7 separate regions of the Homo sapiens genome follow, and regions 2, 3, 4, 5, 6 and 7 are each linked to region 1. The links come from fine-mapping of genetic effects on gene expression. A gene starts in region 1. Each other region holds a variant in brackets. All regions are shown on one strand. Distances are from middle to middle. Region 1 holds the start of MAST4 (microtubule associated serine/threonine kinase family member 4). Region 2 overlaps MAST4 (microtubule associated serine/threonine kinase family member 4). Region 3 holds the start of LOC105379003 (a long non-coding RNA gene). Region 4 overlaps CD180 (CD180 molecule). Region 5 has its middle 10 kb from the start of CD180. Region 6 overlaps MAST4 (microtubule associated serine/threonine kinase family member 4). Region 7 overlaps MAST4 (microtubule associated serine/threonine kinase family member 4).

The links.
Region 2: its variant is fine-mapped to the expression of MAST4 in whole blood (INTERVAL, PIP above 0.99).
Region 3: its variant is fine-mapped to the expression of MAST4 in left ventricle (GTEx, PIP above 0.99). The same link has a PIP of 0.9 or more in atrial appendage.
Region 4: its variant is fine-mapped to the expression of MAST4 in whole blood (INTERVAL, PIP above 0.99).
Region 5: its variant is fine-mapped to the expression of MAST4 in whole blood (INTERVAL, PIP above 0.99).
Region 6: its variant is fine-mapped to the expression of MAST4 in whole blood (TOPMed, PIP above 0.99).
Region 7: its variant is fine-mapped to the expression of MAST4 in whole blood (TOPMed, PIP above 0.99).

What each region holds. Positions count from the first base shown.
Region 1 is chr5:66,594,554-66,598,633 of GRCh38, forward strand. It overlaps MAST4 (microtubule associated serine/threonine kinase family member 4), which reads left to right and starts at 1,840. Exons shown (of 29, transcript NM_001164664.2): 1 at 1,840-2,465. The coding sequence starts at 2,103. RefSeq lists silencers at 1,476-1,675, 2,286-2,425, 2,436-2,585.
Region 2 is chr5:67,051,090-67,055,169 of GRCh38, forward strand. MAST4 (microtubule associated serine/threonine kinase family member 4) reads left to right here. Exons shown (of 29, transcript NM_001164664.2): 5 at 3,315-3,403. Among named protein-coding and RNA genes, the nearest start is that of MAST4-AS1, 49 kb to the left of the region's middle. The variant C/T (reference allele first, on the strand shown) is at 1,687.
Region 3 is chr5:66,438,349-66,442,428 of GRCh38, forward strand. LOC105379003 (a long non-coding RNA gene) reads right to left here and starts at 2,078. Exons shown (of 3, transcript XR_948380.3): 1 at 1,799-2,078. RefSeq lists an enhancer at 2,088-2,337. The variant T/C (reference allele first, on the strand shown) is at 2,247.
Region 4 is chr5:67,183,508-67,187,507 of GRCh38, forward strand. CD180 (CD180 molecule) reads right to left here. Exons shown (of 3, transcript NM_005582.3): 2 at 2,344-2,510; 3 at 1-1,078. Among named protein-coding and RNA genes, the nearest start is that of CD180, 11 kb to the right of the region's middle. The variant T/TACACAC (reference allele first, on the strand shown) is at 1,781.
Region 5 is chr5:67,204,779-67,208,858 of GRCh38, forward strand. No RefSeq gene overlaps it. Among named protein-coding and RNA genes, the nearest start is that of CD180, 10 kb to the left of the region's middle. RefSeq lists an enhancer at 1,372-2,571. The variant A/G (reference allele first, on the strand shown) is at 2,259.
Region 6 is chr5:67,004,624-67,008,703 of GRCh38, forward strand. The region is part of intron 4 of MAST4 (microtubule associated serine/threonine kinase family member 4); the gene reads left to right. Among named protein-coding and RNA genes, the nearest start is that of MAST4-AS1, 2.5 kb to the left of the region's middle. The variant G/A (reference allele first, on the strand shown) is at 1,707.
Region 7 is chr5:67,157,694-67,161,773 of GRCh38, forward strand. MAST4 (microtubule associated serine/threonine kinase family member 4) reads left to right here. Exons shown (of 29, transcript NM_001164664.2): 27 at 2,763-2,899. Among named protein-coding and RNA genes, the nearest start is that of CD180, 37 kb to the right of the region's middle. The variant T/G (reference allele first, on the strand shown) is at 2,529.

The DNA of each region.
Region 1 (4,080 bases):
CAACCACGTAGGGGCTCAGATAAAGACCAGAACTCCTAAATAGGAAAGTAATTGTGAGGCCCGGGTTAAATTCGGACTGCCCCACTGTGCTCTCTCTTTAGCCTTGCTCTCACAACTTAGCTGCCACTAGACTTGACCTTTTGCCTCAGCAGGTCTTCATATCCCTGTGAATAATTCAGAAGCGTCACAATGAAAGCCTGACAACCGGAGTCCATTTTGCAGTATGGCTGTCTGAAGCAAGATAGACAAAACGTATTTCCTTCCCCTTCATCTTGAGGGGAGGAAACTGATCAGGACAAAGGTTGCTGTCCAATATGATGAAGCCCTCTGTGTGATGTATCACTTGTAAATACCATGATAGCATGAAAGGCTCATTAGCTGAAGGGGCTTTCAATTAGGGTCCTCCAGTTTTTAAGGACCTTTGGCAAGGCTGCTCTGACAAAGAGAAATCTAAGATGCTCAAGGACCTGCTACTGTTTTTCTGTAACTCTTTCCTCTTCTCCCTCACACATTTTTCCTGTATCACTTATCACAGCTTCTAAAATGGATAAGGGAGCTATATTATGCAGTATCAATCTCTCGCTTGACCATAAGCTGCTCAAGGGCAGGGGACCTGACTTATTAATCTTTGTATCCCCTGCACCTGGCACACATCTCCATCAACGTACATGGAACTGAGGCGGTTGAATTTACATCCCAGGTCACTGTGCCAGAGCTCAGAATGGGACTAGAGCTGAAGGCAAGAGAGGAATCATTTATTTCCCACTGCTGAGCTGAGTGCTGGCTTCCAAGGAAATTCCAGTCACCGGACAGGCAGCATCCTCCAGCCCCAGGGAAGGACTTAAGGGTACTCTATTGGTACCTTTAGTGAAAGTTCTTTCTCCTAGTTCTTAGAGGTAAGGAAAATGAAGCAACCTGTCCTGTATCCTGTTGGTTTACAACCCAGGGCTAGGAGAATGTACATTGGAAAGTGAATCCTTTTCATCCTCTGCTTAGCTGATCATACCGAGACAGACAATTTGAGTAGGACTACAGAGCTTGGTCCTAATTAAATACAAGGACATACTTTTTTATCTTCCTCCCTATCAAAAGGTTCAAGTCTCAGACTTAACTTTTTAGTTTACAAACAGAAATAAAGACAGGAAATAGTCTTTTAAAAACGCTCCGTGTATCCAAGCCAGGCACTTTGCTGATGCATTATATATATTTGCTCTAAGCCTGCCAAGACCAGTAGTAATGTAGCCATTTACAGTTGAGGAAACTGAGGCCCAAAGAGCTTAAACGGAAAAGCAGAGATTAGAGGTCACTCCCCTTTGGGTCCGCTCACTATACCACGAAGTTTCTGTCCTTTTCCTCCAACACGCTGGTGAGTCCGTGTGCGTGGGTGACTGTGTGTGTGTGGTTCCTTTTTTCCCTATAGAGCCCTCCTTCTTGTCCGTTTTCTTGATTCCACTTTTTGGAGACAAAGTCCAGTTCTTCTCCAAGGTCTCACCATCCGCTCGCCGTCTCCCTCTGACGTCCCAAGGACGGTCAGCCACTCCCCCGCTAAGTTCGGAGTCTCAGCCCTTGGCTCCGATTCTGGGCTCCGCCCCCACCCTCCGGGGACCCCCGCCTGGTCCCTGTCCCCTGCGCCCAGGCGCTCCAGCGGGACCACGGCCCGCGCCCGGGCCCCGCCTCCCCTACCTGAGGCCCTCATGGCCGGAGGCGTCGCAGCCTCCGCCCACCAGCGCGCCTGCCCTGCCATTGGCTCTGCGGGCTGCCCGTCTCCTTGCTCCGTCCCGGAGGCAGGTTTTGCAAGGAGAAGCCGCAGTACCCGCGGCTCGGGTGCAGCGCGGGAGCACAGTGGAGCGCAGATCGCGGACCCGAGCGGGCATGTCCCCGCGCGCGGGAGCCTCCGTTTGCGGCCGGGCCCGGGCGGCTGTGAACTTAGCAGCGGGCTCCTGCGGCCCCGTCACTGCCATGTAGTCGCTGGCGGGGCTCCCTGCAGCCCGGGAGCGGCAGTGCCAGTGAGCCTGAGCCCAGGAGCCCGCGTCTTCCCCGGGAGGCGCTGAGTGCGCGCCGCGCCCCCGCCGCTCGGGAGGCACTTTGGGCCAGACAGGGAAATGGGGGAGAAAGTTTCGGAGGCGCCAGAGCCGGTGCCCCGCGGCTGCAGTGGCCACGGCAGCCGGACTCCAGCCTCTGCGCTGGTCGCCGCGTCCTCTCCGGGTGCTTCCTCGGCCGAGTCCTCCTCGGGCTCAGAAACTCTGTCGGAGGAAGGGGAGCCCGGCGGCTTCTCCAGAGAGCATCAGCCGCCGCCGCCGCCGCCGTTGGGAGGCACCCTGGGCGCCCGGGCGCCCGCCGCGTGGGCTCCGGCAAGCGTGCTGCTGGAGCGCGGAGTCCTTGCGCTGCCGCCGCCGCTTCCCGGAGGAGCTGTGCCGCCCGCGCCCCGGGGCAGCAGCGCGTCCCAGGAGGAGCAGGACGAGGAGGTGGGCCTTTCCCCAGCTTGCCCACTCTGGGTTCCGGCAGCCGGGCGACCGTAGTTTCCCATCCTGCGCACAGGCAGTGGGCAGGAGAGCGCTGTGGCCTGGAGATAGGGAGGGACCCCAAGCGCTCTGCCCCGAGCACGGGACAACGATAGTTAGGAGCCCCCCTGTGGGTTATTGACTTCCCTGTGGCTGTTACCCCCGTGTGTGTGTCTCAGTGTGCTGCCTGATGGTGTGTTTTTAAAATGTCAGAGAAGCAAACTCCTTCGTGTTTGTATCTGACTTGGTTGATCTGTGAAAGGATGCGATCTGGACATCTGGCGTGTCCCCACAACTCACCTCTGATTCTCCAAAGTGGGCGTTGTTTCCCACCGAAGCGCTTGGGCCGAGGGGCAGGGAGTTGAGGGGGAGAAATGGTGCCTTGGGGGTAAGAGGCAGGAGTAGGGTGGGGGGCAGCGGTAGCCGCGGAGTTGCCTGCGGAGGTTTCAGTGGCGCCAGCCCCCTGGGATCGCCCGCGGGTGGTTTTGGCGCGTCCCCGCAGCGTCGGTCCTCTGGGAGAAGAGGACTCCCCGCGCTCCCTCGGTGGCGCTGGCGTGCGCGCCTGCAGCTCCCGTTCAGACTTGTTTCCAGCTTGTCCAGATGAACGCTTGTCACCAAACCGAGTACAGATCGTCTTACCTTTTGCGGGGCGGAGCGGGGTGGGGGATCTGTATCTGCCCAGTTTCCTGGAAGGATGTTCCTCCAGAACTTGTGGGTCGCTTCCTGACACACTGAGCATAGGACTCTGGTGTCCTTCTGGCTGCTCTGTCCGGCTTATTTTCTGCTTTTGGAGGACAGTTAAAGAAGTGTACAATTCTTCACGTCTCAGAGCCAGACTCAGTTTAAAAAAAAAAAAGATTGTTTGCTTTGGACGTTTCTTGTGGGGAAGTCATCTTGATCAGGCAGGGCCACAAATAAAACATCACCTTAACATAGACTTATTGTGAAATTAATTCCTGAGTGCCAGTGTTGTATTTTCCTCATCTTGGATGGGGTTAGCTTTAGTAAATAATTGCCTTTGTCCCTTAGAGTAAGCAATCAGAGGCCCCCAGCCTGGAAGCAAAAACTGGATGTGGCACAAGGTTGAGAGGAGGCGAGTCCTAGCTTGGCAGAGATGGAACAAGCCTTAGCTGCTTAGCTGGTTCTTGGCCAAGCCACTTGCAGTAACCATGACCCATTCCCTAATTCCCCTAAGCCCCCATTGCAAGGATCCTGGATAAGGGTCTGGAGGCCTGCTTTCTAGAACTGCCTCTGCTACTGAGTGGTGAGACCTTGGGTATATCATTTCACTCCTCTGAGGTTCAGTTCCATAATCTGTAAAAGGAGGAGCTTCAAGGTAAATTTCATTTTCACTCTCATACTCCTGTTTCGAATCAGGAATTTCAGATGAATCCATAGCTCCAAATCGATCCTAGCGGCGGGATGTCAGGAGTTTGCTGAGTTCCTCACCCACCGCAGAGCTACATCCTAGCGGAGATGATCAAACCCTGTACTGCCCCAGCCTTCCTCGCTGATTACATCTCCCTTTCAAGGTGCGGGGCATGTGCCACGTGTTTGCCCCTTAACTTCTGCCTCCACT
Region 2 (4,080 bases), 460 kb after region 1:
TGAGTTATAAAAAAGATATTTCTGCTACAGGAGAAGTAGTATTCATGTTTAATCTGGTCGGACATCACCTGTTTTTCCCTTGGGTGACTTTGCTTGAAAAAAAAAAAACAAGGCAGAATTGACTTAGTTGTGCTGGTGAAAAGGAAGGAGCCTTTAATTTGCCTGAGTGGAGATGTTTCCACTGTTTTATCATTTAATGGGTTAAATGAGTAGGTGTGGCCATGAACACCTGGAGAGACTGCCTGACGTGCAGGTGCCATAAACTTCTGCTTTCATGGGCAGGAAAGTGTGTGATACCTGGAGGACAGAGGTCAGCTCAGCATTTTGCACCAATGTTATTATTAATGTGGGCATTGCCAGGTGCTGTGGCAACCTGGGTGACAGATGCAGTTCTAACCCACTTGAAGTTTTCTTACTGTTGGAGTTAAGTGCAGATTTTAATTCATTTATTGGGAATCAGGTACTTAGAGTAATAAGATTAGGTGACTGTCAGATATCCCAGAAGCAGGTAATACTGAGATTGGATGACTCTTCCTTCCTGTACCCTGGAAAGGTTTTCTACAGAATATCTCAGTAGGGTCCTAGGATTTTAAAAGTATTTAGATATATATATCAAGATATAGGTATTTGGGAATGAAATGCTGTGTAAAGTGTCCCTCTACCCTTGAAAATTTTAGCAACAAATTCATTCATAAGGCGAAGACCCCATTTCATAAGTATACAGATTTATTTCATGTACATATGGAAATATATCAGCCTATATTATATAAACACTGGCTTTGCTACTTTGGGATCATTTGATGTTTAAAAGTTTTCTATTTCATTGTTGAGAGAGATCCCAGAAAGTTCCAAGTCTGTTGTAATTTTAATATCATCTCTAGCTTCATGTTGAAAGGAAAAAAGATTAGAGGAGACACTTTCAGTGATGAATTATGCTTTGATTATTCATGGCATTTGTCAATAAGATATACCTTCGATAATTTGTTTTGTGTAACATACTACCCATACCTTAAATATGGTAAACTGTTCAAATTCTGAGGTAATTTGTTTTTAACTTCTCTTCTTTTAACTTTCTCATGTATTCATAGATGAAATAGCCTGTTTTCTTTCACTCTACATTGCATTCATAATGAATCATCTATTTATAAAGATTAGAAATCTGTATAGAGGAGTAGATGCACCCAGGATGACTGTAATGTAAATCTGTTTGTATATTGACCAAACAAGTATATTTTATTTGGGGGTTTTATTTAGACATTTCTTTTTGATATTTTTTTTGAATCACATTTTTGAAATCACTTTTCTACCCCTTTTTGATAGATTTTAAATAACTAATGGAATTGTGAGGGTTTGTTGTTCATGTTTTCATTTTTTAAAAAATCTAAATTGTTCATTGTTTTGCCTATTGTGGTAGTGTATGTACCTTAGTATGTATGGTAGTGTACGTTTCTTAGAAATTTTTTAAGTTTTTCTTAAATAACATTTTCTAAATTTAGTTTTAAGTATATCAGCATATTTCACTGATATATCTAGTTAAGATATTCATTAGATTATTTGCATTGACAGACATTTCTTATGAATTTTATTTATGCATATAAACAATAAATATGTTGAAAAGATCTTTATGCATGATGTAGATCAAATGCTAAACACGAAAAAATGTAGCCATTTTTATAATAACCTGAA[C/T]TTCAGTTAATTTGCTGAAAGAAGTTTGCTGACATTTCCAGGACATAAATCTGTCATTTATAATTTCTTCTATTAACATCAGCAAGTTAATATATTTAATATTTCTGTATTGGAATGAAAGAAGACATTAATTTGAATTAACACTGAATACATTATACAGTATCTTTTAAAACCAATCAGACTGTCTGATTTAATGATTGTGAATTTAATAGGTTGAATACATACATTTCTTGATAGATGAGTTGATAATATCCAACCCACCTTCATAATTAAATATCAAAAGTCTATTCTTATTAACAACTGCTTTAAGGCTGAGTAAACATGAGCTTAATTAAACTCACAGATAATACTAGGGGATGCTGATTGCTGCACTAAGGAAAATAAAGTGATGCAGCCTGACCTTAAGAAATTATAAATATGGGACTGTTGACAAATGATAATAAGCAGCAAACATCTAAGAGAAGATAACTCCCAAGTCTGTATTGCTGAAAGAAATTGGGTTTGGTTTTGAAATGTATTATTTGAATATTTAGAAATGTTATCTCACTGTACCTAAATTAGAAGTCCAGTGAAAATTCCTGTTTCAGGAATCTGGTATAACAGAGTTCTGTCCTGCACTAAGAAGGCATTGCAATAAACTCCTAATGGTGGTTGAGGGCAGCACAGTGTAGGAGGATAGAAGCACAGAGCCCTGAGCCTTGTTATAGGTGAATTAAATGAGGTAACTTGCTGGGTTTTACCACCCTCCTCTGACTACTGTATTGCTAATAGAGAATGAAGTGCCAGTCTATTTTGAAGAAAAGCAAATGAAAATAAGATAATATCCACTTCACCCATCCGCCAGTTTTGTATTTGTCTTATTCTTTAAGGCTTTTGAAAGTTACTTTGAAATCAAATTAGCCATTTTATAACTTCCTTCTAGCAGAAACAGGAACAAATTGTTGCCCTGTGCCCATGTGTAGTAATTTATTTCTATGCTCTGGGTACTCAGGATAAAACCAGTAGCTAGCATGCTTGTGAAAGAGGACCATCACTATTATTTTAATACACTGGGATCTGATTTTATGATTCCAGAACATTTACCTTAATAAAGAATTGAATGCCATATACAAGATGAAAAATGAATGAGTGGTGAGACACATTTATCTTAGGCATCAGCTATTCTATTGACAAAAGGCACAAATAAGAAATTTGTCTAAATAATTAGATTTTTAATTAGTGCGTCATTATAAGATTAATGTCACTGCACTTCATTGCATGTAATTTTGTATTAGAAATTTTGTGTCAACAAAGATGCTACCTGTGGTTTGCTGATTTGAATCCTTAATTTATCACTTGTGTGTATGGCATGTTACATATTTGCACTCAAGCGCTGGAAGAAGGCATTTGATTATTGCTCCACTGGTGGTGAGGAATATTGATGGTGTTGTGCTATATGAATACATTATATTTTCTAATATTCAAGAGGTAGCCACCCCTCAAATATTAGTGAATGCATAATTGTAATAATTTTAACAATAACATGAGCAGATAGGTTGCTCAACCTGGTCCATGTCTACCGGGAACATGGTTGAACATTATTGATGCTATATTCTTTTTAAACTTTGTTTTTTCTTTCTTTTTGATAGTTGCCGAACAAGCAACCGGAAAAGCTTAATAGGCAATGGGCAGTCACCAGCATTGCCTCGACCACACTCACCTCTCTCTGCTCATGCAGGTAATTGGTTACCATTTCTTGAGTTTTGTTTTATTTCTTTATTTGTTGGTTTTTTAAAATAATTAATGCATTTTGATATTTGGTATGTCTTCACATGTTATCTTTGTTTTCCTGCTGTTTTATCCCTAAGTTGTTCTTTGCGATATGTTAGCCCAGATCTTATCCTCTCTGTTTCAGTGTTTGGACTCTAAAATACAGAATTCCTTTTTATATGGGGTCTCTTTTTAATTATTTCTTTCTCCATTTCTAAATGCCTGGATGATACAAGACATGGTTTCCATGTTAGGAATATCCTTGGGAAATGTAAACATGATAACTCATATGAAAAGTACTAATGTTAAGAACTGTTCAGCATATTTCTCCCTAAAATTGAACTTGTCTAATACATTGTGATGGTCATTTTAGGGACAGTGAAGATTTAAGAGAGAGCCTTTGGCCTCAAGTACTTTATAGAATTATAAGGAAGGTTAGAACAGTACTGTAAAAACTAGACAATGAAAACTGCTTTATATGCTGGTTTTTTTTTTTTTCTTCAAAGTTCTATCCATGGTGATGCAAAGAAGAGAAGGGTTAATTCCAATAAAGAAAGTCTGGAAGAGTTTAAAGGAGCCATTTGCCCAAGATGTTGAAAGATGAGCAAGAATTTGTTGGCTGGTAGAGATGGAGTGAGAGAAAGG
Region 3 (4,080 bases), 160 kb before region 1:
AGGTGCATATCTTTGGGATGTGGGTAGAAACTAAAGTACCTGGAGAAAGCCCATGCAGATGTGGGGAGAAAGTGCAAACTCCACATAGAGAGTGGCTCTGGCTGGAAAGCAATTTATTTTTCTCATCAATGTTGTGAAGAAATGGTTAACTAAACAATGTTATTCAAGGATCTGCAGTCAACTTCTGGAACTAAAAAAAAGATTTGATTCCTTACCTCACAGCTTATACCAAAATATATTTTAGGTGAATCAAATATTTGAATATAGAAAAAAATACACCACAAAAATATAGAAGAAAACAGACCAGGCACAGCAGTTCATGCCTGTAATCCCAGGACTTTGGGAGGCCAAGAAGGAGGATCACTTGAGCCCGAGAGTTTGAAGCCACTCTGGGCAACACAGTGAGACCTGTCTCCACAAAAATTAAAAAATTAGCTGAGCGTGGTGGTATGCAACTGTAGTCCTAGCTTCTCAGGAGGCTGATGTGGGAGGATTGCTTCAGTCTCAGCTACTCAGGAGGCTGAAGTGGGAGGATTGCAGTGAGCCATGATCATGCCACTGCACTGCAGTCTGGGTGACAAAGCAAACCTTGTTCCCCCACCAAAACACACACACACACACACACACACACACACACGTATGTGTATATATATGAACACATAGCAGATTGTTAACCATATGCTCAGAGAGCTGAAGGTCTTTCTTTCTTTTTTTTTTTGAGATGGAGTTTTGCTCTTGTTGCCCAGGCTGGAGTGCAATGACACAATCTTGGCTCACTGCAACCTCTGCGTCCCAGGATCAAGCGATTCTCCTGCCTCTGTCTCCCCAGTAGCTGGGATTACAGGCATGCACCATCACATCTGGCTAATATTGTATTTTCAGTAGAGATGGGGTTTCGCCATGTTGGTCAGGCTGGGCTTGAACTCCTGACCTCAGGTGATCTGCCCACCTCGGCCTCCCAAAATGCTGGGATTACAGGTGTGAGCCACCGCACCTGGCCCTAAAGTTCTTTCTAAGATGCTCCAAATAGTAGAAACATTTGAAAATTTAATTTCATTAGAAAGTTGGCATGAAAAAAAAAATCCCACCACAGAGGAAGTTAACAGGCAAACAGGGAAAATATTTGCAATTCATATCCTCAGACAAACATCAAAACCCCAACAGAAAAATCAACAAAGGTAATGGACAGACAGTTTACAGAAAGGAAATATGAATGGTTTTCTTTTTCTAAAAAAAAAAAAATTAGAATTCATGAATGAAGCCATCTGGTCCTGAGCTTTTCTTTCTTGGGAAATTTTAAATTAATGATTCAATCTCCTTACTCATTATTGATCTGTTCAGATTTTCTATTTATTCATGATTCAGTCTTGGTAGGTTGTATGTATCTAGAAATTTATCTGCTTCTTCCAGGTTATCCAATTTGTTGTGATATCATTTTCCATACTACTCTCTCCTTTTAATTTCTGTGACAGCGCAAGGTCTCCTCTTTTGTTTCTGATTTCATTAACTTGAGTTGTCTCCCTCTTTTTCTTAATCTAGCTAAAGATTAGTCAATTTTGTTTATCTTGTAAGGTGTTGGATGTCTATTACCTTGATTGTGGTGATGAGATCATGGATGTTTGCATATGTTCTAACTCATCAAATTGTACACATTAAATATATGCAGTTTTTGTATACCAATTATACCTCAGTAAAGCTGTAAAAAAACTCACAATAAGGAAATTGCACATTAAAATCACAATAGATACCATTTCCACCTATCATATTGGCAAAGATAAAAACAAGTTTGATAACTCACTGTGGCCGTTTTAAAATATATCCACAAATTCTTGGATACTCCTTTCCTTTAAGAGGTAGAGCTTACTTTGCCTCCCTGTGAATATGGTTGGACTCAGCGACTCACTTCTGATGAATAAAACATAGCAGACACGGTGATTTGTGGCTTCTGAGGCTGTCATGAAAGGCGCAGCTATATCCTACTTGCTCTCTCTGTTGGATCACTCTCTCTGGGAAAGGCCAGTTGCTGTCAGGAGGACACTCCAGAAGGCCTGCAGAGAAGTCCACATTTTCAAGGAACTGAGGCTTTCTGCCAATAGTCATGTGAGTGAGACGTTTTGGAAGTGGATCCTCCCACCCTGGATGACTGCAGCATTGTCCAACCTCATAAGAGTCAGCGAGGCAGAACCACCCAACTAAGTTCCTTTAAATTCCTGACTCACAGAAACTGAGAGATGAGATAATATATG[T/C]TATTTTAAGCTATTTAGCATTGTGGTAATTTTTTTTTCTCTGTGGCCCAGGCTGGAGTACAGTGATCTCAGCTCACTGTCACCTCCACCTCCTGGGTTCAAGCAATCCTCCCCCTTCAGCCTCCCAAGTAGCTGGGACCACAGCACAAGCCACTACATCCAGCTGATTTTTTGTGTTTTTGTAGAGATGGGGGTTTCACCGTGTTGCCCAGGCTGGTCTCAAACTCCTGGGCTCAAGCGATCCGCCCACCTTGGCCTCCCAAAGTGCAGGGATTATAGGCAGAGCCAGTGTGCACAGCCTACTGTTACTTTTTACACAGCAATAGATAACTAATGAACTCTTTCTGTGGTGAGGTGTGTGGGAATAGGCACCCTCATAAATTGCTAGTAAAAATGTAAATCAGATCAACGCTATGGAGACATATTAGACAATATCTATTACAGTAAAAATGTAATTCCACATTTAGGAATTATTTAATTAATATTTCACCCCTGTGCAAGTGTATCATCCAAAAATATACTTGCACAGGTGTGAAATATTAATTAAACAATGTTATTTATTGTAGCAGTCTTTGTAATGACCAAGGACTGAAAACAATCTAAATGTGTATCATTACTAGGACTAGTTAAATAAAGATGGTACATCTATATGATGAAATTCTACGCAGCTATTACAGAGAATAATGTAATTCTAGAAACAAAAAACAAAACCATGTGCACAGTATACTACCATTATATTATGCAAAAGAAAAGAATGTGTGTAGATTATCTTTGGATAGATACACAAGAGACTGATGGTGGAAAAGATGGGATGCAGGAGTGGGAGATAACTTTTCACTGTATGTCTTTTTTTGATACTTTTTGAAACACAATTATTTTATTATGTGTGTATATTAACTATTCCAAAAATGAAAGTATTAGAAAACTAAAATAGATGAAAGGTCATTCATGTTAAGAGAGTGTTTATAATGTGTTGCTGAAATAAAAGCCTGGAAAGCATTCTCCTACAATCATGATAGCTAGGAGAATATCTTCACGCATGGAATATAACTTAAAGTTATGACCTAAGCCATTGTATTTCCTTCTGTCTAGAGGAAGAATAGATTTATAGGAGGTGGATGGTCTGCTTAGAGTCTAGATAAAGAGAAATCTAATAGGAAGGATTTGTTGGTGTTTACACAGACCATGAGAGAAAGGCAGTATTTAGCAGACGTAAGTACTTTAATATTAGGGCAGTATACTTTATGTGATTCAAGAACATTCTGTTTGTTTTTGTTTTTTGTTTAGGTTCTGTGCCCAGTAAACTTTTAATTACTAATTGTTTCCCTAGGTTTTTACAAGCTATCTGCTTAATATTAGACACAAGTATCAGTCACTGCAAAAATATAGATCTCATTAGAAATTTTTAAAAGGCATTTTCGTTTATACATCAATCTTTTTGGAGTTGGATTTGTGTGAATCAGGCCAAAGCACCAGAAGAGCAATGACTGCTCTAATATGATGGAGTTTCTAGACACATAAAACTGAGGAGGAGAATCCACTTAGATTCCATCTCCCTCTGAGGCCTAGTAGAGTAGCCAGCCAATCTCTCTAGGAGAGTTTACTCTCAACTTCTAAAATGCAATAAGCATAATAGAGCAAAAAGAAGAGCAGGCTGAATAGCAGTTCATCTGAAAAATCCCCATGTGGTTTGATGTGATCCAGCTAAGAAGGCTGATGAAAGCTCAGGACTCATCATTACATAGGGACCACATAATTGAAAATCATCACCTCCCCGGGTTCTTTTTCCATTTGGAAAATCTTTGACCTTTATAATTTGAGAGGGGTGTGACCT
Region 4 (4,000 bases), 590 kb after region 1:
ATGGAGGTTTTGGAAGGGACTTTGTGGAGCATTAATGTGTAAGCGGGTAAATGCCAAATCGAGGAGTTCTAGCTGAGGACATTCTTTGAATGCCTGACTCTGGAGACCAAGAGGCTCATTGTGGCTCAGGTTTAAGGTTTGCAAGTGGGACAGGTTTTTGAGTTGCAGACTGCAGCAGTCAGAAGCCTCTATGTCATTATGGCTTAAATCAAGTGTCTGAAGGTTTCCTAGTTTCTCCAAGCAGCCAACACCAAGGTGAAGTTTCTTCACGTTGCCTCTGATGTAGAGGTGTGTAAGGGAGGGGAAATTGGCAGCACTGATTTGACACAATTGATCGAAATGATTTACACTGAGAACTAATTTCTTGAGCAAGTTCAGACCCTTCATCCCAGAGGGTAACCCTTTCAAGTGAGTTGCTGTCAGATCCAATTCTTGGAGTTGGGTGAAGCACTGAAATGTGGTGGATGAGATGTCAGAGAAGCGGTGTTCCTGCAGGTTGAGGCTCTCAACAGACATTTCACAGAGTCCCTTGAGCATGGCTGAACTAATATCTTCGTCATCAATGTCCTCAAATGTTCCCAGCCAGAGAGACTGAGTAGTAGAGTTCTGCAGACCATTGAATATAACAGACAAATTTGGAGTTCCTCCAAAGTTCAAACTTTGGAAGATCGTTGAATCAAAAGCCCCAAGCTCAATACCTTTAACATTATTGCCATTGAAGTTCAGGCTTAGGTTGATGGCCTGCTCCAGAGACCTCATGTCTTCTCTAGAGATGTAGTGTATAGCATTATTCTGAAAATCCAGTACTTTCAGATTCCGTGCTGGGAAGTCTTTGGGGAACTTAATGGAGGAAATATGGTTGCTTCCAAGATACAAGCTTTCCAAGTTTTCCAGATTGTGCACTGGAATAAACTCGAGATTGGATATTCCCGTTTGGATTAAGAAAAGATGCTTCAGTGACTTGGGCCCATTAAGCGATGTTTCTGCCATGAATATCAGGGGATTTCCAGTTAACACAAGTGTGCTTAATTGATGATGGCTTTGAAAAGTGTCTTCATGTATCCAGTTAATCTGGCACCTTGAAAAGATAATCGTATTTAACAATAATTCATTTGAAAAAAGTAAAAAAATACTTTACAGTGACACACATTAACAAAGTCATCTTTTGTATCATTCAAAATCAAATATAAGAACTTTCTTCAATATCAACAGATGGCCTATTGAAGGAATTAATGAGTAGCCTCACTTCTGAACACGCCAATCTAGATTTTTTTTCCAGGTATCTCACCCCTTAGATTGAACCCTCAGAGGTTTGTGCCTGTATTCTAAGGAACCATGGGTCATTTGATTGTGGCAAAAATCAAATTATTATTTACTGTTTTAAGTAATACAAAATATATCATATAGAATGCATAATAGATAATATATGGTATAAAATACATATATATATACACACACAAAAATCTGTGTCATCCCGGGCAAGTTACAACTTTTCTCAACCTCTGTATTTTCATCTGAGAAAACCATCCTGGTATTGCACCTAAAAATACTGGATCACACACACACACACACACACACACACACAGATGGCCTCCTCATCTAACCATAAGTTGGATGATACTACGCACCATGGAATCTCACACTGGTGCTTTTAAAGATGAAGCGGTAGTATGGATGTGGACATCCTGTCCACAGAAGCTGAAGTTGAAGGACAAAATAGAAGAAGTAGAACTGCCGCAAAGGGTGCAGACTGCAGGTACACGCAGAGCCTGTCCCCTCT[T/TACACAC]ACACACACACACACACACACACACACACACACACACACACGCAGTATAGCCCTTTCATTTTCTTCCCTTATTTTCTTGTAATACTTCTTCCTACTGGTTCTCAAACACTGGCTCAGCATGTGGAATCCCAATTATGCCACTATAACAAAATAATGGAACTCATTTTCCAATTTGTAGGGGGGAAAAGTAGATGGTGTGCTTTTCTCCTAGAAATTTTTCTTAAATGTAATTACCCAAAAATAAACTATGCCAAAATTTAGCATAGTTTGGCATCTGATTTAGTACAAGATTATTTTCATTTTTGCTATCAGTATTCCTTAGAACTGCTTCAACAGTGCTATTGATGCAACTGGTTTGAGAGCAATCCATTTTCCTCTCCATTGGTTGATGTTTATTTAAATTACATTTCACCCACATAGGAGTATTTCATGGGGAGGCATAAACATGTAGTATAAGCAGATTGTCCCTGGGCCCCCCAAAAAGGTCCTGCAAATAAATTAAGCACATACTGTATTTTAACTTAAATAAAATAAAAGAGCACACAAATAACTCAGATACATACCTAGTTAAATCCAAAAAGGTAAGATTCATGAGTCTGCTGAAGGTTCTATTGTGAATTGTAGGCAAAAAATTAAAGCTGAATTCCAAAAATTCTGTTGTGTTTGGTAGAGTGTCAGGGATTTCACTGAGACCTAAATTTTCACAGTTATATGTTTTGTTGGCTTCTTTCTGATGGGAGAAACAAAGTAAATTAATATTAGACTTAATAATTTTATAGACTATCTAGCAAAATTATATATGTTTTACCTTCCGAGCGGCAATCGTACTTCTAGTAATCTTTACCAAATATACACTTGCCAAAAACAAGATGATGAATGCACATTGTTAACTGTAGTACTTTTTTTGTAATAGCAAAATTGACAATAACCAGACTATTCATCAATATAGGACTACTTGAACAAAACATGGTACATTCACAAAATGGAATCCTCTAAAACTGAAAAAAATAAAAAAAACCCTCCATATATTGATATGGAGTGATATCTGGGATATATTTCAAGGTGAAAAAAGCAAAATGCAGAACAATATATGTAGTGTATATAGTATACAGTATGTAGTATAATGTACAGAGTATGCCTTTTGTGTAAGAAAGGTGTGTGTGAATTTTCTTATATTTGTTAAAACAAACCATGCAAAAACCCAAAAACTGATTGCCTTTAAGAAGAGGGAAGAGACCAGATAGAAGAGCAGGGATAAATGTGAGACTTCTCTGAATGCACTTGGTTTTACAGTTTTGATTTTGGTTGAATGGAAATGTTTAATTTCAGTTTGAAACAAACAAATCGACCTTAGATAAGCATCACCAAAATAAGACAATCAAACATTACATACTTTCGTATGTGAGACAATGTGAGGTATACAGCATTGTCTATGAAGTATTCTTGCCAAAAAAATAATTAAACTTTAAACTCATCAAGATTTTAGGTTTAACTTCACATCTCAAAGTGATATGGTGGATTTAAGTGGGACATTCTATGGAACAACTGACTTTGTTCTATCTGTGTGTGTGTGTGTGTGTGTGTGTGAAAGAGAGAGAGAGAGAGAGAGAGAATGAGAGAGGAGATAGTGCTTGTTAAAAGATACAGAGATATAAGATCTACTTAAGAGACATAACCATCAAATAATACAGTAGACCTCATTTAGATCCTGATCCAAATAAAGCAGTTCAAAAAGGCATTTTATAGACTGTCAGGTAATTTTGAATGAGGACAGTATTCAATGATATTAAGGAATTCTGGATTTTGTAAATGACAGTGGACTTGTGGTTATTTAAAAGAAATGTTCTTATTCTTTTGAGAAGCATATTTAAATATTTAGGAGTAAAACAGCATGATGCTGGAATTGGCTCTAAAATAATCTGGCAAAAAAGGAGGAGAGGAATGCAGAGATGAAGTGAGTAGGCAAAATGCTTATGATTGTCGAATATTGAGATTCTTTGTTACTATTTCTGTATATGTTTAACATTTTTTTCTTAACACAGTGCTTAAAAAAACTAGCAGGGTGGCATAGACCTGAGGCCTTGCAATCTTGAAGTATGAATTAATTTTAGATCTCTGTATTTGTAGGCTGCTGATACCAGACAGTAGGCTTTTGGGCAGAACCCTACACATAAGTACAGATAACTTCCTCATCCTGTGCCCCAGGGTAGTCATGTATTC
Region 5 (4,080 bases), 610 kb after region 1:
CAAAGTAAACACTGCAAGCTGTAGTGACTTTCCAGTGCTAAGGAGATGGAGTGACTGCAAAGGCCACAGTAAATAGGACTCTTTAATGACAGGGCAGGAGGAGGCTGCCCCAGGCCCAATTTATTGCTGATACAGAGTCTCTGAATTAGGGCACATGATGACCGCTGATCGTTAAGTAGGGCTGTGAGGAAATGTTTGTACATATGAAGAAGCTAATTAAGGTGGCTTGCCAGATATGCATACTCAATCTCTGCTTATTGAGGCTTCTTCCTCCTGTGAGGGAGGCTCTCCCCAATCACATAAGATCTCCAGCAGTCATCCTGCATGTGAGTGCCCTGGGTAGAATATGAAGGGGCTCGGGGACGAGCTTGGGAACTAGAAGTAAATGGTTAAGATTCGGCAGAGGGTTTTTATTGTGGCAATATCTGAACATTTGCACATATTTTCTAAACATCTTTCTAGAGATGACTTGAGTCTCACATACGTGTTTCTATTTTAAAGCAGAGTTTGGATCCTTCCAATAAGTGCCCAAAGCCACCAAATTTGGTATAGCTGGGACTAAAATGCTTTGCTTTTCCCCAATAACTTCCCCAGAGAAAAGTGCTACTTGCTCTAAGTAGACTCGTGAGATTTCCATTTTATAAATAACACTGATCAAAACTATTGTAAATAGTTCTCTTTCAGCTCCTGCATGGCTGGAACATATGTAAGATTTTTAGGTTTTTGAGATTTGCTAGTTTGGGGCAATTTACATTTGGGAGTTTTAATTTCAAAATAATAAAAAATACCGAGTGTTTCCCAAGTTTTCGATTCTAGCCTAAGATCTGGAAACAACTATAATTTCTGACTTAAGAACAAAACCAAACCAGCCCCAGTCGCAGAAATCTATCACTTTATTATGTGGAGATTGATGGGGAGTTGGTCAAAACCTTGCTCAATCCCTGTGACCTCCGTGCTCAGGAAAACACATCTTCATTATTTTTCTTTGATTTTTATAGGTTGCATTTGTTTCTTTGCCTGTCGTTCATTTCACTTCGATTGCATTTTCTTTCTGAAAGTCTTTTTCCTGTAAGGCCAGTTTGGTCAGCATTCAGTTCTTGCTTTAATTGGGCCTCTTTAAGCTTTCATCCCCTCAGATTTTTATATTCGTTTTTATTGTTGAACCTCACTTTAAGCTGTGGCTTTTCATTGTCATACCTTCCCATTTGTTCCTCATTCACCAGAACTTTGTTTCTGTGGGATCATCATCTTTCTTGGTCTGTGGAAGGCCCAGGTAGCACCCATTTGTTTTCTTCCCTCAGTGTCTCGTTGGGGCCCACTCATCTGAGTCCTTGGGGTTGCTCAGATGCCTGATCATCTCAGCAGCCAGCACCATCAAAGAGGAAACCTGCCTGAGATCCCGGCTCTGAGCTTCTTCCAGTTCAGGGTCTGGGACCTAGTGTCCAGCTGAGGCACCGTGGGATGTGTTTGTAGGAGGTAAGTCAGGGAGTGGTGGGCTCCAGCCCCCTGAGATGTGACATGCCCCACAGCCCTGACATTGGCCAATGTGGTAGGCAGTTCACCTCTGAGGTAGGGCAAATCTAGCTTTTTGACTTTTTCCCCAAATGAGATGCAAGATATGGAGCCTATGGAGAAGAAAATAAGAAGCTAAGAACTGGTGTGTCTTGGGTTTTCAACCAGAGAAAAAATCCAGTTTATATGGCAGAATAAGCATATACCATGATCAGACCAGCCATAAACAGACATCAAGGTAGCGAAAAAGTCCTTACAGAGAGATGCCATCAGCAATGGCCAAGTATGGTGATATTCTAACATTCTAGTTTCAAATTCTAGCATAGTTTTTCTCGTTGGAACATAACTACTGTAGTTCCTGTTGCAGTCTATAATTAATGAACAAACAAACAAAAAAAGAAGTAAAAAGAGGAAATTGTAAAATTTCTGTTCCCACCTTCTAAATATAGTTTAATTTGCTTTAAACAAATCTACCATAACACTTTTAATTTGTAGAACTGATAAACATTAATTTATCAAAGGACTCATATTATTTGTGACTGTGCTCACAGACTAGAGTTCCTTGTAGAATTTCTTTCAACTGTAACAAACGTGGTGCAAGTTTTTTGATGACTTGATTTTTAAAAATTTAACTACACATATCTTGGCTGTATAAAGCGAGGCTGACTTGTAACTTTGAAACATGCACATTAAATAGTCAAGAGTCAATAAAGAAACTGAACAAATGACAAAAAATGTTTGCTTCA[A/G]GTGAGTCAGTCATGACAAAACTACTCTCAGAATTGATTTGGAGATAGCCTAGGCTGTGGTTTTTCAGAGAAACCTGTACAGCTGGGTGGGGCACTGCGGTTTGCTAGTTTCTGGAGAGGTCAAAATGTGAAGTCAAAATGGTGTGCTGATACGGGAAATGACTGAGCTCCATTGCAATTCAGACCTATGACAAGCGGTTAAGGCACCTGCTATCCCCAGGCCTCAAGCTCTGTGTGGGTGCAGTGGAGCTGGATTCTTGAAGAGCTGGTTGTTTTCCAGGGCAGGAGATGGCCTGCTCCCAATCCAGAATTCTAACAAGAAAATAGCCTGGCCATGGCCCACACTTCCCAAATAGATGCACCTTTTTTTTTTTTGGATTGTCATCTTTTAAAAAAAAATACATATACTTTCATCAGCAGAATTGAATTTGGAAGGTTGCTGATGTTTTTTAAATTAATAGAATATGAAGCATTTACCATTTTCATAAGAAAGCTCATTAAAATTTACCTTTTATCCCCCTCTTGTCTGAGAAATGAGTATCTAGCACATAGTGCTTACTATTGCCAGGTACTGTTCTAAGTATTTTAGAGATGCAAACTAATGTAATCCTATGCCTAGACTCTGAGTAGTCTTTTCTAGGCAAAGAAACACAAGGAAGCTAAGTAAATTGCCCAAGGTCATTCACTGTATGGATGGGTTGGGGCTTGAACCTAGGGAGTCTGGCCCCAGAGATCAAACAAGAGAAAGAAGGCATCAGGGAAGCCCGAAGAAGGGAAAAAAAACCCACCAAAACAACCAGTTTTGCCCAATGCTTTGAAGAAAACTTTTAATCCTGTCTCCTTCCTTGCCCATGAAAAATGTCCATTTAGTCATAGTCGGAGTCAAGGGCAGAGCGAGGTGGGAGAGTGCCAGCCCGATGCTCTGTGACCCCATCCCAGCCTCGTCCCCTAGGCTTTCTCTTAGGCAGTGCTCTCCCAGCCTCTGTCATCTCCTTAAACATGGGTCTCCTTGCCTGGGCGAACCCTGCACATCCTTCTGAGCAGCACTGCCCAGTAGAAATGGGAGCCACATATGCAACTGTAAGTTTTCTAGTAGCCCACCTTAGAAAGAAAAAAAAAACCACGAAACAAATCTGTCATTGCTTTCTTCTTCCACATTTTGCTTTTTAAACTTCTGTTTTAAGTTTTTTACTTTAAAAAAATTCCCAAAAAGGAGACAGAAAACAGCTCCTGGAAGAATTTACAACCAACTGCATCGGGGTCTGGGAAACTGGACCAGGGTGGGGATGAGTGGATGGGAAGGGGTCCCCTTTAGTCACTGCGGCCTCACTGGAAGACCAAGGGAGCAGGGATTCTTCAGTCAAAAGGGAGGCAGGGAAGAGAAGTGGGAGGAGGTGGGAGTTGGGTGGTTGGAGGAGATGAACAGAAAATAAAATGTCGTTGTCTGGTTAAATCCAGAGAAAAATACCTGGCCCTGTAAGGAGGGAGGATGCCCTTCCAAGGGGATGGAAGGGGTCTGGAGGGAAGCAGGGTAGGGAGGCCACCCTGAGACCCTGGGCAGGCCCTGGTGGAGGAAGCGGGCAGGGGCCTCCGGGACTGTGGGACACACTAGCTATTGTGTTCTTGTGCCATCACCCTGTGTGTTCCCAGAGCAGCTCCTTGCTTCATTTTGCTTTCTCTTAATAAATGACATGGCAGTCCTCCCTGCCCCAAAGTGAAAAATTAATTAATTTCAGGAATATATTTTATTTAACTCAATATATCAAAATATTATTGCAATCATATAAAATCAATGTAACTGATGTGAAATATTAATGAGATG
Region 6 (4,080 bases), 410 kb after region 1:
AGATGACAAAGTACCTCCGACTGAATCCCACAGACAGCGCTTTGAGCAGAACGCACGGCTCAACTCATGTAATTACTGTTTATAGCTGGCCGAGCCTGACTAGGAGAGGGCAGACCCGAGAGGAAATCAGTTTCCCGGACCTTTGAGAGGAGGCTGTGTGTTAATTAAAGGCTAGGACGGGACGGGTACTTCTCAGACATGCTCCAAGTTGTTCTTGAGATCACAGTTCCCATCACATTTTCTCTGGAGGGAGTGAGTAGATAATTGGGATTTTTTTTTTATTTTTGGCCTTGTCTTTCTTCCTTTTTTTTACCTCTCCCCATTTTAGTCATATGGCCTTGAACCCACAGTGAATTGAAGAGAGAAAGAAATGGATATGTCTGACCCCAATTTTTGGACTGTGCTCTCAAACTTTACTTTGCCTCATTTGAGGAGTGGGAACAGGCTTCGGCGAACACAAAGGTAAAAACGCGGGGATCTCTGCCTGGAGAGGGAATGCTTTCACTTCCCAGGGGCCCACAGGCGGAGCTGCCTGAGCCCCTCAGGAGCTGGGGTTTTGTGTATTGGGTGACACTTTGAAAAGTTTATGCCCCGCTAGGGGAGGGGGTACTGTTTCAGGTATTTCTTCGTCCTTGTGGTTTCCTGGGTAACCCTGATAAATGTGCTTCTCATAGGTTTTCTCCTTTTGAAATGTGGATAATAAGACATTTCCTTGTGAGAGGTGGGGGAGAAAAAGGGAAAGAGGAGGAGATACTTTGTCTAAGTCTGTCCCTTTGACCTGATCATGTTTATCCATTTCATTCACCCAGTCATTGAGGCTTCTGGTACTTTTCGTTGAGCCCTTCAGATGTTCCTCTCTATTAAATATTTGACCTTTATAAGATGCAGATGTACGATGCAAGGATAGCCCAGGTTAGCTATTTCATACTATCTGTGGAGAGGCAGATCTACATAACTTTGTCATTTTGATTTTTCAATGGTTTGCTGGCATTTATTACTAATACAGGAGTGTCCTTTTCATTTTGTAACGTATATTTGATAGAAAAGATGGGGAAAGAAAAAGAATTTTAATGTCAAGATGAAGCTCATGCCACAAGTGACAGGCAGTTCCAAGAGTTTGCTGACACTTGTGTTGAGAGACTATGACTTTGAAGGAGGCATTTCTCACCACATTTGTGTCCAGCACAGAAAAGTAAGATTGTTGTACTTTTAGAGGGGCACACCTTTTGAGTTGTGTTAATACTGATTCTTTGTTTTCCTTCAAAACTTGCCTTGCATGTACATGTGAACATGCATGAGAGCAACTTTGCAGTCAGATAAACAGGATGCAGGCTCTCAGATTTGGAGCTTCACAATCTCTATGCTTCAGTGTTCAAAGAACCCAAGAAAATGGTTCGTTCTTTTTGGTTATACCTGTAACTTTTTGTAGTATAAATGTGGATATGTGATACTTTAGAAAACTTAGTTTTTCCTTTTGAAGTTTTTCATGGTTTCTTACATTTCAGAAACATCCTGGAATACTCACATACACTGTTTATATACATGGGTGCACACACAAATCACATGTGCACCTGTGTGTATGAGAGAGACATCTGGCAGGTTTCAAAGTCATATTTGCTTTTTGATGCAGTTTGAAGTGTTGATACCACTAAACTATGTTGGATTCTGAAGTTGTACCTTTTAAGTAATGTGACTATGTTTTTCTC[G/A]TTCTGCCATATATGGTCAGAGACCCTCTCTTGTAGTATTGCTCATTTTGTAGTATTGCTCATCAAGTTGTGTCAACCATGCACCAAACCTCCAAGACAACTAATAAAGTTGAAGAGAGATACATGCTACACATGAACTAGGCCACTGCTCAACATGGTGATAATTCGTATGATTTCTTACCATTTCAGCTGGACAGAATCCCTTAAATATTTCTGAGTTGTGTAGTCCTGGCTGCGGTACAGCCTCTACTCTTACCTGGAACCAGTTCTTAGGGAGAGAAGTCTGTTCTGGCATCGTATGTGTGTGTCTGAACCCGTAGAGCAGTTGGAGCCTTTCTTCTTCCTACCTACCTGTTGATAGTATTATTGGAGAGAGTCAGATGCAGGAGGATTCTCAGGCTGCTCTGAGCCTGGCTTTAGGGCAGTACCTGTCCAGCCTGAACACTCCAATTCAGACAGCTCACACTGACAGAGAGCCTAGATTCTAAGGAAACCTGAATTCTTCCCAGTAAAATGGGAGAGCATTGGGTGGGCTGTTTCCACCCCAAGTCATGAAACCGTATCTTCAATTTGGCAAAATAGAGAGGGAAGGGGATTTTCTTCTCCCCCTTTTAAGAGTAAAGGTTATGACAGCCTGTTTGTTGCTGGAGATTTTCAGGTTTTGCAGTTTGGAAATAAACATCCCAAAGATCATCTCTACATCCATCGAGTCATTGTCTGTCTCAAAGGGCTAGCATTGCTTTATATTTATTATGTAGATTCAGAAGGCTAGGTATCCTCATCTCCAGGGCAATGTATGTGGCTATTGCATCCTGTTATTATACAGTGATCAATTCTGGCTCCATGTCCTTCCCTAAGGACATGAAACATGTGCTTACATTGTGACTTCTACTTTTGAGATGCCCCTTAACTGTTCTAAATCCTGTTTCCTTTTCCAAGTCTAATGCTGTACCTTACCGGGCTGAGTAGTTTTTCTCCTTTCCAAAGGACCTTTCTGTTCGCAAGTTGTTCTGTTTTGCCATCCTCGATAAGGGTGTCCCCAGTGTCCAGGTGAGGACACCTTGCTGTCATCATCAGTCAGATATGCCTTAACCCTTGAGATATCTCTCATTCCCAAACTTAGTTCCTCTCCTGCACACTTGCTGACTTGTGTGACAGATTGTTCATTTTGAATATTTTATCCCATCTGTTTGTTCTGATTAACATTGTAATCTGGAGGACTTTATCTTAGCTTTTTCTTTAATATCAGCTTCTTGCATCTATCAAAGTAAAATTCAGCTTTGAGCCTATGAATGAGCATCTTAGAACTCATAAGGATAGAATGTTTGTCACACTTAAACGAGAGCTTGAATGGTTTCAGACTCTTACCTTAAACCTTTATTATGGTAGAAATTGTCATCATGGAAACTTTTGGTTTGCTACATTACGTTTGCCTTATAGTTCAATGTGATGCTGGTTTGTTAGTTTGTACTCTCAGAGAAAAATATTGAAGGTTTTTCTTAAAACCTACAGCCCTACTTGTGCCTGTAACTCTTGGGGTTCCTGAGGAAAGAAGCCTACAGACATACTCTCAGGCCTAGATTCTCAAAGATGACACAGTACTGATGAACTGAAAGACTCTGTCCCTTGTGCTACGTCCCAAGGACAGTATATTATGCCCTTCATTCTCTTTTGTCTTGACCATGGCAGACATGAGATTGTTGGGATGCACACTGGCTTTTGTCTACTCTGTTGCTGTATAGCTTACATGTTCCATTGGAAATAGTTCCTTCTATATAACTGGCTTTGTCCTCCTCTCCCTTCCCCTCATTTCCTCAAGGTAGTCTCAGTACAGCCATTCACCTGCTGCTTTGAGGGACAGAAACCTAGGCATAAATGAAGAGACTTTATACGAAAACTTGTTGCTTTAGACTGAAGTAATGATTGCATGTTTCAGAGATTTTCAGTTTCATAGGTCTGTGGCTATTCCATTCATTGAGGATCCTCTCACAACTCAGAATGGAAATTAGTTGGCCTGCATTCATGTCACTGCTTATGTTTATAGCATCTTTTCTTTGCCCATTGGATGAAAAACTTTTGGGGGAAACGAATCAAGCTTCTCTTTTAATTATATCTGCTCTCTGTCACACCTTAAGGAAAGGGCTACAATTGATTTCTAAATGTTGCTGCTAAGTTTTGAGTTGGGCCTTTAGTTTTGCTGAAGTGCAGTCTTGAGAATCCAGAAGATGCTTGTGTTTTAACCTTAATGTTTAGAAATCTGTCATGTTTTCATTTTGCTTAATGATAATCTTTCAACCTTGATGATGCCTAAATCAATAAAACCATTTTCCACGCCGATGGGTAGTTTGTGACTCAGTTCATCACTTTGAGCAAG
Region 7 (4,080 bases), 560 kb after region 1:
GTGAGCAGCAAGAGAGCCAGCATGGGCTTTTCCACTGGACTCTCAGTGACCTCGGAAACAAGAACCTTGTTGTCTGTTGTCTCAGAATCCGTTTTCTTTACCTGTAAAGGAAGGATAACAAACTCTTCTAGGCCATGAGGGTGAAACAAACAACGCTTACGACTTGTTTGTGAAAATAAATTTAGAGAATATATATGAAAATGGTTTAAAAATAAATCTATGCTTTTAAAAAGTCAATCCTGAATTGTATTAGAAAAGAGTGGAACTGGATTCCAGCTCTAGTGGCACACATGGTAGTATAGCCCCAGCGGTCATTATGGTTCTGCACGTCCACTCTCTGCATATGGAAGAGGACTGAAGGAACATCAGTGACACAGGAACTCGCCATGCTTGTTGCCCCTTTCCTTCACCACAGGAAATACTAAAATTTCAGCATGGCCTCAATTTGTGAAGAGAAGACCCCACTCCAAAAAACCTTCAGTGGTAGACCTTACATACTTACAAAATGATTTTTCTCATTAAAGAACAACTAGAATGCCATCTCTACTATCAGATAAAGGTTTATTTTTAATGTTTTGGGGCTTGCATGAAGAATGTTTATTATTTTGCGATAGAAAACAAAATAAACTTTTTTCTCTTGTTGAAGTTAAAGCCCCCTTTCCCTAAAATATTTCCTGCAAATATGACATTAGGTATGAAAGTATATTGTCTTAAACACACACAGAATTCTAAGTCAGCCGTGGTTGTGTGCTCCCGTAATCCCAGCTACTCAGAGGGTGAGGCAGGAGGATTGCTTGAGCCCAGGAGTTCGAGGCTGTGGTGAGCTGTGATCACACCACTGCACTCCAACCTGGGCAATAGAGGAAGACCCCATCTCAAAAAAATTTTTTTTAATTAAAAAAAATTAAAGAACTCTAAAACTAATAATAAAATACTAAGACCTTCCAATATTAAACTGGATGTAAGACTGAATAAATCATTTCTTAAAGAAATACAAATAACCAAACTAAATAAGGGACAACATCAAACTGTGTAAGAATTTAAACACAGAAAATAATCAGCTGGGCACGGTAGCTCATGCCTGTAATCCCAGTACTTTGGGAGGCCAACGCAGGCAGATCGCCTGAGGTCAGGAGTTCAAGACCAGCCTGACCAACATGGAGAAACCCTATCTTTACTAAAAATACAAAATTAGCCAGGCCTGGTTGCACATGCCTGTAATCCCAGCTACCTGGGAGGCTGAGGCAGGAGAATCACTTGAACCTGGGAGGTAGAGGTTGCAGTGAGCCGAGATCGTGCCATTGCACTCCAGCCTGGGCAACAAGAGTGAAACTGTGTCTCAAAAAACAACAAAAAAAGAGAACAATAGCAGTAAGGAAATATTACATAATTTTGATTCACCCATCTGATCGGATATATTGCTCAGCCAGTAAAAATCATGTTTTTAAAGATTATTTAATGATAAAGGGAAAATTTTTCCAAATTATATAATGTGCAATGAAAAAGCAACATAAAGCTGTAAATAAACTGAGATTTAAATTAGTTATAAAGCATGTGTACATATGTGCCTATTTACACATGCGTGAGAAAAAACCAGCAGGAAATATACTGAAATATGACTAGTGGTTGGGTGGTAAGCTTCTTAATTTTTTTTTAATACTTTCCTATTATCTTCTTACTGTAGCATGGATTACTTCCCAAATCAAGGGGGAAGGTAGATGCTATCTTTAAGACAGTCATTCCCTGTCTTTTCAGTCCTCTGCTGCCACCATACCTAACTCCCCCCAACTCCCCTTCACTTGGTACCATGTTGAGCTGAGCTCTAGGTATCTTCCAGGCATGGGCCTTTAAAAAGATCCTTTTCCTTGTACCTCTTGTACTTTCATGGTAATCGGGGCCATCTGTGACCTTGAAAGGACAGGTTTCTCCCCTGGTTATTATGAAATTCAGGAAGGGTAATTGATGCCAGGGACTACCCACCTGCCCTGGGCCCCCCTCGGCCTGACTGCTGACTCCACGCTCAGTTCCATCCCTAGAGGCTGCCCAGCAAGCCCCTTCCCAGGATTGAGAGAAAGGACACCGAAACTCACAGAAATTACCTTACCCTGTATGACCTGGTTAAAAAGAGGTTTCCTACTGGCTGGCATAAATGTTCCAGCTCTGCAAACTGATAGGTTTTATGGTGATAGAAAAGGAGCCTTTTAAAATAATTAAAAATAAAAGTCTCATTCGGTTTTGTTACTCTACAATTTTTAGGCCAAAGGAAAAACACAAAAAGGAGAAAAAAGAAAAATCAACCAAGAGCAGCCAGCCACTGGGAACATTAATACTTAATACCTGTGGAAGAAGTAGTTATCTTATTTATAGTGTTCTTTCCTTGTGTTGCACTGGGTGCAAAAGGCTTTACAGACTTGCTCTCATGTGATCCTCAAATGAGCCCCAGGAGATAGGTAGGATTATATTGTTAATTGGTACAGGAAGTTGAGGGTAGGGAGGGTAGCAGCCTGGTAAGGGCACAGTGCTTGGAT[T/G]TGAACTCAGATCTGTGGACTCCAGAACTCACCCTCGTAAAGAAACTTCATATTTTGCCTTCCACCCAGTTTGTATTCTGGCAGGACTTCTTTGATTGAAGGGTTATTTAGAAACAGAAGGCCTTTTATATGTATGTTCCTTTCTATTTGTATTTGTCTATGAATCTCTCATCTCTGTTCTGATCTTGCTTCATCACAGCATTTCCCTTTAATGCCACCTCATCTTTTCTTTAGAGTGGGAATAAGGTGTCAATCACTACTACCCCATTTGAAAACACATCAATCAAAACTGGACCAGCCAGGAGAAACAGCTATAAGAGCCGGATGGTGAGGCGGAGCAAGAAATCCAAGAAGAAAGAAAGTCTCGAAAGGTTAGTAAAATCAGTATTCTTTTTAAGTTTGGTGTATACCTATGTTGGGGAAAAGTTACCCCTTAATTAAATGCTTATATATGAAGAAGATCTATTTTTCTGTGAGAAATTTTATGTTATGGTTCACATATATGTATACATTAAAATCCATATTCATAATAGCATCAACTTCCATAGTAAAAGGATTTACATATTTACATTGTGGAAGGATTCAGATTGTTTTTTATCATGTGTGAATGTCAGGAAAAGCCCTTTGCTGTTTTTTAAGCCTCTTCACTTGATTTCAGTTGAGTTGGATTGAGGAACTGGATCTTCAGGTGGTTTTTAACATTAAATCTACATTTAAAATGTCCTTTACGTTATCAAAAAACAAACAGTTGCTATTTTTAAAATGCCAGATATTCTAAAATTACTGTTACCTTTAAAGGTTCCGAATAAGCCTAGAAATAAAAGGGCTTTGTTTTACTCACTGAAAAACGAACTAGCTTATATACTTTTGTAGCCTGGGAAGCACTGATCAGTATCTTTTTGTGCTGCTTGCAGACACTAGCAAGAGGTATGTGTTTCTGGCAGGGCTGTTTCTTGCCAGGCAGCTCTCTGGGTGTGCCTCCTTTGCAATGCCACAGCATTTCTTTACTCAATTGGGCCTGATGAGTCACATCATATTAAAAGGATTTTTGATGATAGAAATGTAGAAAAACAAGCAAACGAAAAGCCATGTATTAACTCTGGGGGGAAAAAAAGTTATACAAGAAAGGAACAGAATTATGTTTCATATGGCCCAGCTGTGAACAATATTTATAATATAAGATAAAATACCGGCCGTTTTTCTAACCAAAAATTTTGCTTTCGCTATATTGGGAAGAATAGAAAAGGGGAAATATATTTGGTTGCAAGGTAGAAGGTGGTTGTATAAGAGCTTAATTATCATCTTTCATAGTAGAAAATCAACAGGTAATTTCTAAAACTGAAAAACTAAAAAATAGCAGTGTACAAACATTTAGCAATATGTAGACAAATGGGAGAAGAAACAGGTAAAAGAATACAAAGCGACTTCTTTGGGGAGTAGAGAAAAATTCGAGTAGAGGAGTTGCTGTTTTTCATTGTATGTTTATAGAAGTATTTGACTTTTTCACCCAAGTACATTTATTACTCTGATTAAAATTACACACACATAAGAT